Linked DNA regions of Homo sapiens: region 1 is linked to region 2. The links come from fine-mapping of genetic effects on gene expression. A gene starts in region 2. The other region holds a variant in brackets. All regions are shown on one strand. Distances are between the middles of the regions. Region 1 holds the start of TRIM21 (tripartite motif containing 21). Region 2 holds the start of OR52K1 (olfactory receptor family 52 subfamily K member 1).

Region 1 (5,393 bases), 89 kb before region 2:
ACTATGAAACTATTATAAGAAAACATTGGGAAAACTCTCTAGGACATTGGACTGGGCAAAGATTTCTTTCAAATATCCCACAAGCACAGGCAGCCAAAGCAAACTTGGACAAATGGGATCACATCATGTTGAAAAGGTGCTGCACAGCAAAAGAAACAATCCACAAAGTGAAGAGACAGCCCACAGAATTGGAGTAAATATTTGTAAACTATCCATCTGACAAGGGATGAATAACCAGAATATATAAGGAGCTCAAACAACTCTATAGGAAAAAAAATAATAATCTGACTCAAAAATGGACAAAAGATCTGAACAGACATTTCTCAAAAGAAGTCATACAAATGACAAACAGGCATATGAACAGTTGCTCAACATCATTGATTATCAGAAAAATGCAAATCAAAACTACAATGAGATATAATCTCATCTCAGTTAAAATGTCTTTTCTCCAAAAGACAGGCTATAACAAATGCTGGTGAGGGTGTGGAGAAAAGGGTACACTCATATGCTGTTGGTGGGAAGGTAAATTAGTACAATCACTACAGAGAACAGTTTGGAGGTTCTTCAAAATACTGAAGATAGAGCTACCATATGATCCATCAATCCCACTGCTAGCATATACCCCAAAGAAAGGAAATCAGTATATCAAAGAGATATCCACACTTCCATGTTTACTGCAGCACGTTTCACAATAGCCAAGATTTGGAAGCAATCTAAGAGTCCATCAACAGATATATGGATAAAGAAAATGTGGTATGTATACACAATGGAGTACTGTTCAGTCATAAAATATAATGAGATCCTGTCATTCACAACAACATGAATGGAACTGGAGGTCATTATGTTAGGTGAAATAAGCCAGGCACAGAAACACAAACATTGTATGGTCTCACTCATTTGTAGAAGCTAAAAATTAAAACAATTGAACTCATGGAGTTAGATAATAGAAAGATGGTTACCAGAGGCTGGGAAGAGTAATAGGGAGGGTCTGTGTGTGGGGGAGAAGATGGGATGGTTAATGGGTACAAAAGTGGAGTGAATTAGATCTAGTATTTGATAGTACAACAGGGTGACTATAGTCAATAATTTAATTGTACATTAAAAATAAGAGTATAATTGCATAGTTTGTATTACAGATGATCAATGCTTGAGGTGATAGATGCCCCACTTACCCTGATGTGATTATTACACATTGTATACCTGTATCACAATATTCCATATACCCATAAATATACCTACTATGTGCCCACAAAAATTAAAAATATACTAAAAAAAGAAAAACAAAATGATGCAAAGGAAAATAAAAAATAAGAATAAAAATAATGGGTCAGGCACGGTGGCTCACACCTGTAATCCCAGCACTTTGGGAGGCCGAGGTGGGTGGATCACCTTAGGTCAGGAGTTCAAGACCAGCCTGACCAATATGGTAAAACCCTGTCTCTACTAAAAATACAAAAATTAGCTGGGAGTGGTGGTGGGCACCTGTAATCCCAGCTACTTGGGAGGCTGAGGCAGGAGAATTGCTTGAACCTGGGAGGCAGAGGTTGCAGTGAGCCAAGATTGTGCCATTGCACTCCAGCCTGGGTGACACGGCGAGACTCCCTCTCAAAAACAAAACAAAACAAAACAAGGCATAAAATTAATGGCAAAACAATTAATGTCAAAAACAGTAATTACTTTTGCACCGATCAAACAGTTTGTTGAATAAGTTTATTCCTGTTCTGAATAACAAGAACTCCTCCATTGTTTGGTCCATTGATCCAGTGAGACAGAAGGAGAAACTGAGTCCCTAAAAGAGGGAATGAAAATTGGCAAGAACCTCATAAAGCTGTTGACAGTTCTACTCTCATCATGTCCATTCCTGCTTAAACCCTCAGTGCTCATCCATCTCCTGTCGGGTACCAACAGGCCTCCATGTTGCTGAGAAATTATAGCTACTTTTTACCATGTACCTTCCATGTGCCAGAGATACTTCATGCTTTGAATATATCTTCATTAATCCCTCCTATAACGGCGGAAGTCAGTTGCATATATGTATGTAGGTGTATATGTATGTATACACACAGAGTAACAGGAACCGTGGCCAGCACTCCCTGGGCTCTTTTCTCAGCTGCTCCAAACTTAGTTTAGTTCCTGACAACACTTATTCTAGGACAAAGAATAATTCTGAAGGCCTATACATTTCTGGTTGAACATCCTAAACAGCCTGCCCCTCTCACCTCTGGAGGACTTTTGGACCTGGGAGTCTCCAGAATTGCAGACCTCCCCGACACTGGGCTCCCTACCCTCCTGGCTAGGCTGTAGTCCTGGCTATCCCAGCCACACCCAGCCGTCATCCTAGGTCAGGTGCCAGCATGGGGGCAGCCGGGCCCCTTCCCCTTCTGGGTAACTCCACAGTCACGTCCACAACCCAGCCTCCTCCCAGGTAGGGGGCAGCCGGGCCCCTTCCCCTTCTGGGTAACTCGGCAGTCAGGTCCACACCCCAGCCTCCTCCCAAGCAGGGGGCCAGCACCGGAAGCGCAGCTGGTCTTGGGTTGAGGGATCCCTGGTGGGAGAAGGGGCAAATGGGACCGGCTCAAGGATGGAGACTGGAAGGGGCTCTGCAACCCTGGGGCAGGGGAGAGAGGTCCCCTAGGAGGGCAGGGGTCCCTTGATCTAGTGGGGTTCACTCACCTTTACAGGGGACTCAACGCTGGTAGCCAGCTCCCTATTTCACTTTCAGTTTCCGCTCAGAAGCAAGTCTGAGAGGAAAGGGGAGGGAGGAGGAGGAGCCGTGGGAGGAGTGAGGGAGGAGCAGTGGGAGGAGCAGAGCCTTGAAAGGGTGTGTGGAGAAATGCGGCTGAGAAGAGAAGTCAGAGTTGAGCTGGGGGAGGCTTCAGAGGCTCTGCATGCCCAGGAGGCTTCTCTGAGACTGGGAAGGAGTGGAAACTCAGTAGCCCGTGGTCCTGGTTGCGCGCTCCCTCCCATGTCTTCATTATCTGATTTGGTAAAATATCTACAAGACGGGGGAGTCCGGGCTGCTTTCTTTGACACTGGTCATCACTCCACACCTAGACGCTATGTCCATGTCTGGAAG[A/C]TGCTTTTAAGGAAGTTTTGATGCAGAGAAGAGTGGCCGGTGCTCTTCCTCGCGTGCCACCATCTGCTTACTTCCAGAAGCTAATTATTTTCATGTGACTGATGTGACTAATATTTTTTAACGCCTGCAGGTGAGTGATTTATTTCGCATGACCCCAAGGTGAGTGTCCCACCAGTGAGTGGTGAGAAGGAAATTGACATTTGACAACCAACTGTGTTCTTGTCACTGAGCTAGGGACATTCTCAGGTTATATTATTTTTATTTTTAATCGTAAAAATATAGAACATAAAATTTACCAAAGTAATTTTTTTAATTTTCAATCTTGTGTGTCTATAGTAGGTGTATATATTTGTGGGGTACATGAAATATTTTGATACAGGTAGAGCATACAATCCGTAATAATCATATCAGGGTAAGTGGGGTATCTATCCATCACCTCAAGCACTTATCATTTGTGTTATATACAATCCAGTTATATGCTTTTAGTTATTTTAAAATGATAAATTATCATTGACTGTATTCACCTTGTTATGCTATAAAATACTAGATCTTATTCATTCTCTCTCATGTATTTTTGAACCCATTAATCATTCCCCACTACCCTTCCCAGCCTTTGGTAACCATCATCCTCTCTATCTTCATGAGTTGGATTGTTTTAATTTTTAACTCCCACAAATAAGTGAGAACATAACAATTTGTTTGTTTGCCTGTGTTTGGTTTATTTTACTTAACATAATAATCCCCAATTCCATCCATCTTGTAGCAAATGAAAGGTTCTCCTTCTTTTTATGGCTGAATAGTGCTCCATTGTGTATGTGTACCACACTTTCCTTATCCATTTATCTGTTGATGGACACTTACGTTGCTTCCAAATCTTGGCTATTGTGAATAGTGCTGCGATAAACATGGGAGTGCAGATATCTCTTTGATATACTGATTTCCTTTCTCTTGGATATATACCTAACAGTATTTCTTCTGGGTATATACCTAGCAGTATCCAGTAGGATTGCTAGATTACATGGTAGCTCTATTTTCAGGTTTTTTTTTTTTTTTGAGGAACCTTCAAATTGTTTGCCATAGTGTTTGTACTAATTTCCATTCCCATTGACAGTGTATGAGGGTTCCCTTTTCTACATATCCTTGCCAGCATTTGTTATTGCCTTTCTTTTGGTTAAAAGACATTTTAACTGAGGTGAGATAATATCTCGTAGTTTTGATTTGCATTTCTCTGATGATCAGTGGTGTTGAACACATTTTCATATATCCATTTGCCACTTGTATGTCTTCTTCTGAGGAATGTCTATTCAGATCGTTTGTCCATTTTTGAATCAGATTATTATATTTTTTTCCTATAGAGTTGTTTGAGTTCTTTGTATATTCTGGTTATTAATCCCTTGTCAGATGGATAGTTTGCAAATATTTACTCCAATTCTGTGGGTTATCTCTCTACTTCATTGTTTCCTTTGCTGTGCAGAAGCTTTTTAACTTGATGTGATCTCATTTGTCCAGTTTTGCTTTGGTTGCCTGTGCTTATGGAATATTTGAAAGAAATTTTTGCCCAGTCCAATGTCCTGGAGAGTTTCCCCAATATTTTCTTGTAGTAGTTTCATAGTTTGAGGCCTTAGATTTTTTTTTAAATTATACTTTAAGTTCTAGGGTACATGTGCACAACATGCAGGTTTGTTACATATGTATACACGTGCCATGTTGGTGTGCTGCACCCATTAACTCATTTACATTGGATATATCTCCTGATGCTATCCCTCCCCCCTCCCCCCACCCCAGGACAGGCCTCAGTGTGTGATGTTCCCCTTCCTGTGTCCATGTGTTCTCATTGTTCAATTCCCACCTATGAGTGAGAACATGCGGTGTTTGGTTTTCTTGTCCTTGCAATAGTTTTCTGAGAATGATGGTTTCCACTTTCATCCATGTCCCTACAAAGGACATGAGCTCATCCTTTTTTATGGCTGCATAGCATTCCATGGTGTATATGTGCCACATTTTCTTCATCCAGTCTATCATTGTTGGACATTTGGGTTGGTTCCAAGTCTTTGCTATTGTGAATAGTGCCACAATAAACATATGTGTGCATGTGTCTTTATATCAGTATGATTTATAATCTTTTGGATATATACCCAGTAATGGGATGGCTGGGTCAAATGGTATTTCTAGTTCTAGATCCTTGAGGAATCACCATACTGTCTTCCACAATGGATGAACTCGTTGACAGTCCCACCAACAGTGTAAAAGTGCTCCTGTTTCTCCATATCCTGTCTATCACCCATTGTTTCCTGACTTTTTAATGATCGCCATTCTA
Region 2 (5,393 bases):
AATTTTAAAAGGTATTTCCAACAAGAGAAATCTTATTTTCCCATTGACTTATACGGGGAATAACATCATCCTTAAGGTCATATCTATCCCCAGTGAAGAAATAATTTTGTTCCCAGAACAAGTCCAGTAGTATAAGGATCCCATAGACAGGTAATATATCAACATAACATTAGCACAGCCAGGATTAGTCACAAATAGTAAAAGGAAAATTACCTTCTCTATGAGCTCATTTGAGTTTAGCACACAATCAAAACATGAATAAGAAATATGAGTAGCCTACAGGCACATATAATTTTATACCCATATAGATGGGTATATAGATTAGGATAAAGGAAACTTGATGCAGTTATCTAGGCCTAGATGCAATACTTCTAATCACTCAAAAACTAGGTCATCCCAACATTCCAAGCTAGGACACAGAGGTGCACATCATCCTTAAAGTAGGATCAATGCTTGAGTATAGGATCCTGTTCTGCCTAGCAACCCTCACAACACCTTCCCACCTACGTGTTCCTCAAGCAAGGAGTCTTGGTGTTATCTTTGATTTCTTTTTCTCTCACAGCCTGGAGCTAATTTTTCAGGAATTCCCACTGGCACTTAAAAAATAGATATAAAATCTGATACATCTGATTTCTCTCCATATATATGATTAACACATTGATTTGGAAACACCATCTTCTCTCTGGATGCCTACAATAGCATCTGTAATCCTTTCTCTGCTTTCATCCTCATCATCTTGTGCTGTTCCCATTAAGTCAGAAGCAATATCTAAAAAACATATGTCAAATAATGTCAATTCACTGCTCAACCTTGGCTTTTATTCCGAGAGAAATTATGAACCTTTGCAAAGTGAAATCCTTACATGGCTGATATGGTTTGGCTCTGTGTCCACACCCAAATCTCCTCTCGAATTGTAATCCCCACATGTCAGAAGAGGGGACCTGGTGAGAGGTGATAGGATCATGGGGGCAGATTTCCCCCTTGATGTTCTGTTTAAAAGCGTATGGCCCCGCCCCCATTCCCTTTTTCCTGCTCCGCTGTGGTAAGACCTGCTTGCTTCCCCTTCATCTTCTGCCATGACTAAGTTTCCTGAGGCCTCCCAGCCATGCTTCTGTACAGCCTGCAGGAACTGTGAGTCAGTCAAACCTCTTTTCTCCATAAAAGTACCCAGTCTCAGGTAGTTCTTCATAGCAGTGTGAGAACAGACTGATACAAAGGCCTACAATGTTCTGTGTGATCACAGCTAACTGGAAAAAAAAAAAAAGAAAGCAGCACCCAGGTATGGGTAGGGCACATTATATTCACAGGATCAACAATAAGACTGATATTAATAGATACTTGACTTCAAAAAAAGCAAGTGAAGGCAGAATACAATTAATATACTAAAGTGGATGAAAGAAGAATTGCCCATTTAAAAACCTATTCAAATTGAAATAGAATTTTAGACAGAGGCCCGGGAGGTGAGTCATCTTTCACAAACAAAGATGACTAAGATAATTTTACAAATGAGCAAAAGTTGATGGAATGTGTCACTATATGGCCTGTAATAAAAGCAAAAATAAAAGTAGTTTTTCATGCAGAAAAAAAATGATCCAGATGGAAACATGAAAAACCTGGAGGGAATGAAGAACACCAAAACAAAGATGCATATGAATGTAAAAGAATCTAGATTTTACAAAAGAAAAGATAGGGTGGGGAGGATGTCAATGAATTAAACAGTCTAAGTGTTCCAATATTCCAGCAGTTATCTCCAGCATGGTTTGAGCCAATGGCCCCACTGCCCACTCCCCCACTCCATGTGCTTCTTATCCTGCTCCTATGATGTCAGGATTGCCCATTCAGAATGGAGTTGGGGGCAAATTAAGGTGCTTTGTTCACAAAAACACTGTCTATTCTATCTGGCTCTTGTCTGGCTTTTATCTGGCTTTTGCCATATTAGGTTTTGGTGAGGTGCTTTTCATACAGGCTGTATCCCCTTGGCCTAGCTGTACATTGTTAAAACTATGTAGGAATTCCACTTTATCCCAGCATCCCAAAAGATCAGACTTATCATGGAGGAGTGCTGAGTCCACACCCTTGAGGGCCAACTATTACAGAAGGGGAAGTTAGTTCCAGGGTACCTGTGTGGGAAGGGAGTGAGATGACTGAGTTACAGCGTTCTGAGATTGCTTTTAAAAATTATGGGGAATTAGGGTAGACAAAATCCATGGAGAACTCTAGTGAAAAGCATCTTCTCAGGTCCTTGAAAAATAGCACACATTAAGTCAGCTGTAGGTAGAAAGATCACTCTTTATCATTTATAGATGATTGGTAATTTCCTAATTATTAATAAGGAATCACATTCATAGTGGCCTCTTGTTTATCTACTTAGATCCTCCTATCCTTGTGAGTTAGAAAATATTGTAAAAGTTATCTCTACCTTAGAGATAAGAAAAATAGATCAGGGATCAGACAGGTGCCAGATCAAGTTCACGAGCTGGTTATTAATGCATATCTCAGGCCAATATGAAATATGAATGCAAAATAAAATGCCTAATGGATGACCTTGGCCTGGTCAGGCTGGACTCCCTGCCCTTTCAAGTCAGTTCTGACAGGAGTTGCCTGCAGTGTATATTTTCTGATGAGGCTGGCTTTCTTTGAAGACACTGTAAGGATAAAGAGTAAGGAGAGGCACAGCAAACACCAAGACACAAGCCAGCTCCACCTGAAAGTCTCACAGCCTCTGGCAAGTAGGGCATGACCCCTGGTAGGCACAACTCAGTGCCACTAGCTGGGGAGGAGGCATGGGTTGTAGGAAACAAGGATACAGTCCCCTTGGGTCAGGGGAAGTCCCCTTGCATCAACCCAGAGAGAGGAGGCCAGAGATGTCTCTGAGGACTCTGCTCAAGTGCAGCAGTTTCTGCTTCCACAGCCTTCTGGGAGAAGGGCAGAGGTTGGTGAGGATTAAAGCCAGCTGCTCGCTTCCCAGCTTCCTCCTTCTAAGACTCCTTAGACTGAAAGAGGAAGGCGGCACTGGTGCTGCATGAAGCTAATGAAAAGGGCCCAGGATTGTAAGTCAGACTGAGGACTGTGGATACAGCTGCAACTTAGGGAAATAGAAAACAAGTGATGTTATTGGGGTGAGCAGGAAGGTGGGAGTGAGCTGGAAGGTGGGGGCACTGTCAATTTCTTCCCATAGCCATTCCTGATCTTAGGCATCAGCTCTCCAACCCTGTTATTGCTTCTACTCTGGTCCTTCAATAGAGGGAACAGAAGTCTCGATAGTCCCACCCAACTGTTTGGTACACAAACTCCAGATGCTCTCCCCACCACAGAGGATGCCTGCTTCCGTCCTATGCCAAACACTGTGGGCCATCTCCAAGAAGTCTTAGTTGATTATTCCAGTTTGGATCTGTCACTTCTCACCTCCTGTCATTGCTTTTTCTAACCCCTGGCAAATGCCCCATCCCAGTTAAAGGGCTTCTGCATTAGTCAAGAGGAAGAAAACGAGGCCTGAACTAGAAAGATGGCAGGGAAAGGTAAGAAATACCTTATCTTTGAGGTTCTTCTACCAGAAGCAGTCCTGAAGTATCTTGATTATGTGATTATCCTTCCTTGTCTGGTTCTAAGTTTTTCAGATATGTCATTCTGATATCCTTTTAAGATAAAGGTATAGGCAACCAAATAGATTCAGTATTAATTGAGTCCATTCTGGGTACAGAGGCCTTTTTTAAGGAGAAATAGAAGATAAATCCTTTGAGCATGGACATCTTAGTTCTGAAAACAATGAACAGTCTGGACAAAACTTGCACTACAGAGGAGGTCTTAGTTTCTGGATATTAGGGGAAGAAGACTGGCTCCATTCACACTCCTACTCAGAGCACTTCATTCTGAGGAGTTGATTTTAGATGAACTTCAAAGGAAGTAAGATTTATGAACTATTAGACACCCTGTCTTTTCAGGAAGAAATCTGATAGAAGAGATGCCTTTTTTTCTTGTATGAAGATGGGTAGACAGCTCACAGGGTGGTTAGTGATGTTTAAAAGTTGAATGGAGGAATCTAGGGGGACATGGAGACTCAAAGTAAAACATGTGGGTTTTGTGGAAAATACATATTGAGATAAGGTAAAGATGCAGCAGGTTTGTGGGATTATTTCACAGTATTTTAGAAGAGTTTCTTAGACGCCAGGCATGTTTCTAGGTACTGATATGTACTTGAAAATAAAAATGTCTGTTGTCATAAGAGCTTGTTCCTGACAAAAATGCACAAACATTATGAATATTTAAAATAGTATTTTCCATTAAGAAGAGAATTTTATTCTGATGCAGGTAACAAAGTATTGTAATCGGGATGCTTAGAACCTCCATTCTGGATGCATTTTAAATGAGAAGATAACCCAAATTCTGAGCTTAAATCACATGAGGGGAGTAGTATTCTGAGAAATATGTCTTCCAATAATCTAGTAGTCTGTTTTATTTAGTGAAATGTTCCACACCTATGTATGTTAGAGGCTGGGTTTACAGAAGGAAAATAGGTAGAGTTTCTTAACTCCAGTCCCTTCACTTCATGATATGGTGGGTAATTGTTGAAGGATAAATATTGGAGAACAAAGTGGAACTTTGTGTACTTGTTAGGATTCTTTTGTAGCAGTAGTTGCTGGGAGATGCTGTGGCTTGAACAAGGGTGATGGTGTTGGAAGGGTGGAAGTGTTGGAAACGCAATGGGCAACGTGGAGATTTACTATGTAGGATGATCCAGTGTGCTTGCTGATGATTAAATATGATGCAGGAAGAAAAGAGAAGAATCCAGGATGACTTGATTCTAGGTTGAGCAACTGGTTGGGCAGGATGTTACGTTCTGAGATATGGGCAGCACAAGAAGAGAAGTAGTCATGATTTCTGCCTCAGGCATGGCAGGTTTGACATATCTGTGAGGAAGATATGTGGGGATATCGAGTATGGAGTTGGATATCCTAGTCTGGAGCTTACAAGGAATGTAAGGTATGTAAATTTGTGTTTGTTTCAGGATATGTTTATATTCTCAATGATCAACCAGCAGACCACCTAGAAAGATGCAATATTCACGGTCTTTTCAGGAGCAGTATTCTCTTTCTTCGTCTAAGTTTCAACTTTTCCCCTACTACTGGATAATTTGCTTCAGCTAAAGACATGATACTTCTGTTCTAAAACACACAGACACACACACACACACACACACACACACACACACACAGTTGACTTCGCTTTCCATTTTAGCCAGTGCCCTATTTACTTGCTGTCCTTTGCTTCCAAATTCCTCAAAAAAGTTAGCCATGTTAACAAACTTCAATTCCCCTCTTATCTATTCTAACTCAGTCAAGTCAGGCTTTGCCTGTCTCTCTTCTAGCAAAATTGCTTTTATCAAGGTATCCAAT

Evidence for each region.
Region 1: its variant is fine-mapped to the expression of OR52K1 in whole blood (TOPMed, PIP 0.95).

Annotation. Positions count from the first base shown.
Region 1 is chr11:4,390,960-4,396,352 of GRCh38, forward strand. TRIM21 (tripartite motif containing 21) reads right to left here and starts at 2,743. Exons shown (of 7, transcript NM_003141.4): 1 at 2,674-2,743. RefSeq lists enhancers at 2,634-2,843, 2,864-2,923. The variant A/C (reference allele first, on the strand shown) is at 3,077.
Region 2 is chr11:4,479,659-4,485,051 of GRCh38, forward strand. It overlaps OR52K1 (olfactory receptor family 52 subfamily K member 1), which reads left to right and starts at 2,988. Exons shown (of 2, transcript NM_001005171.3): 1 at 2,988-3,518.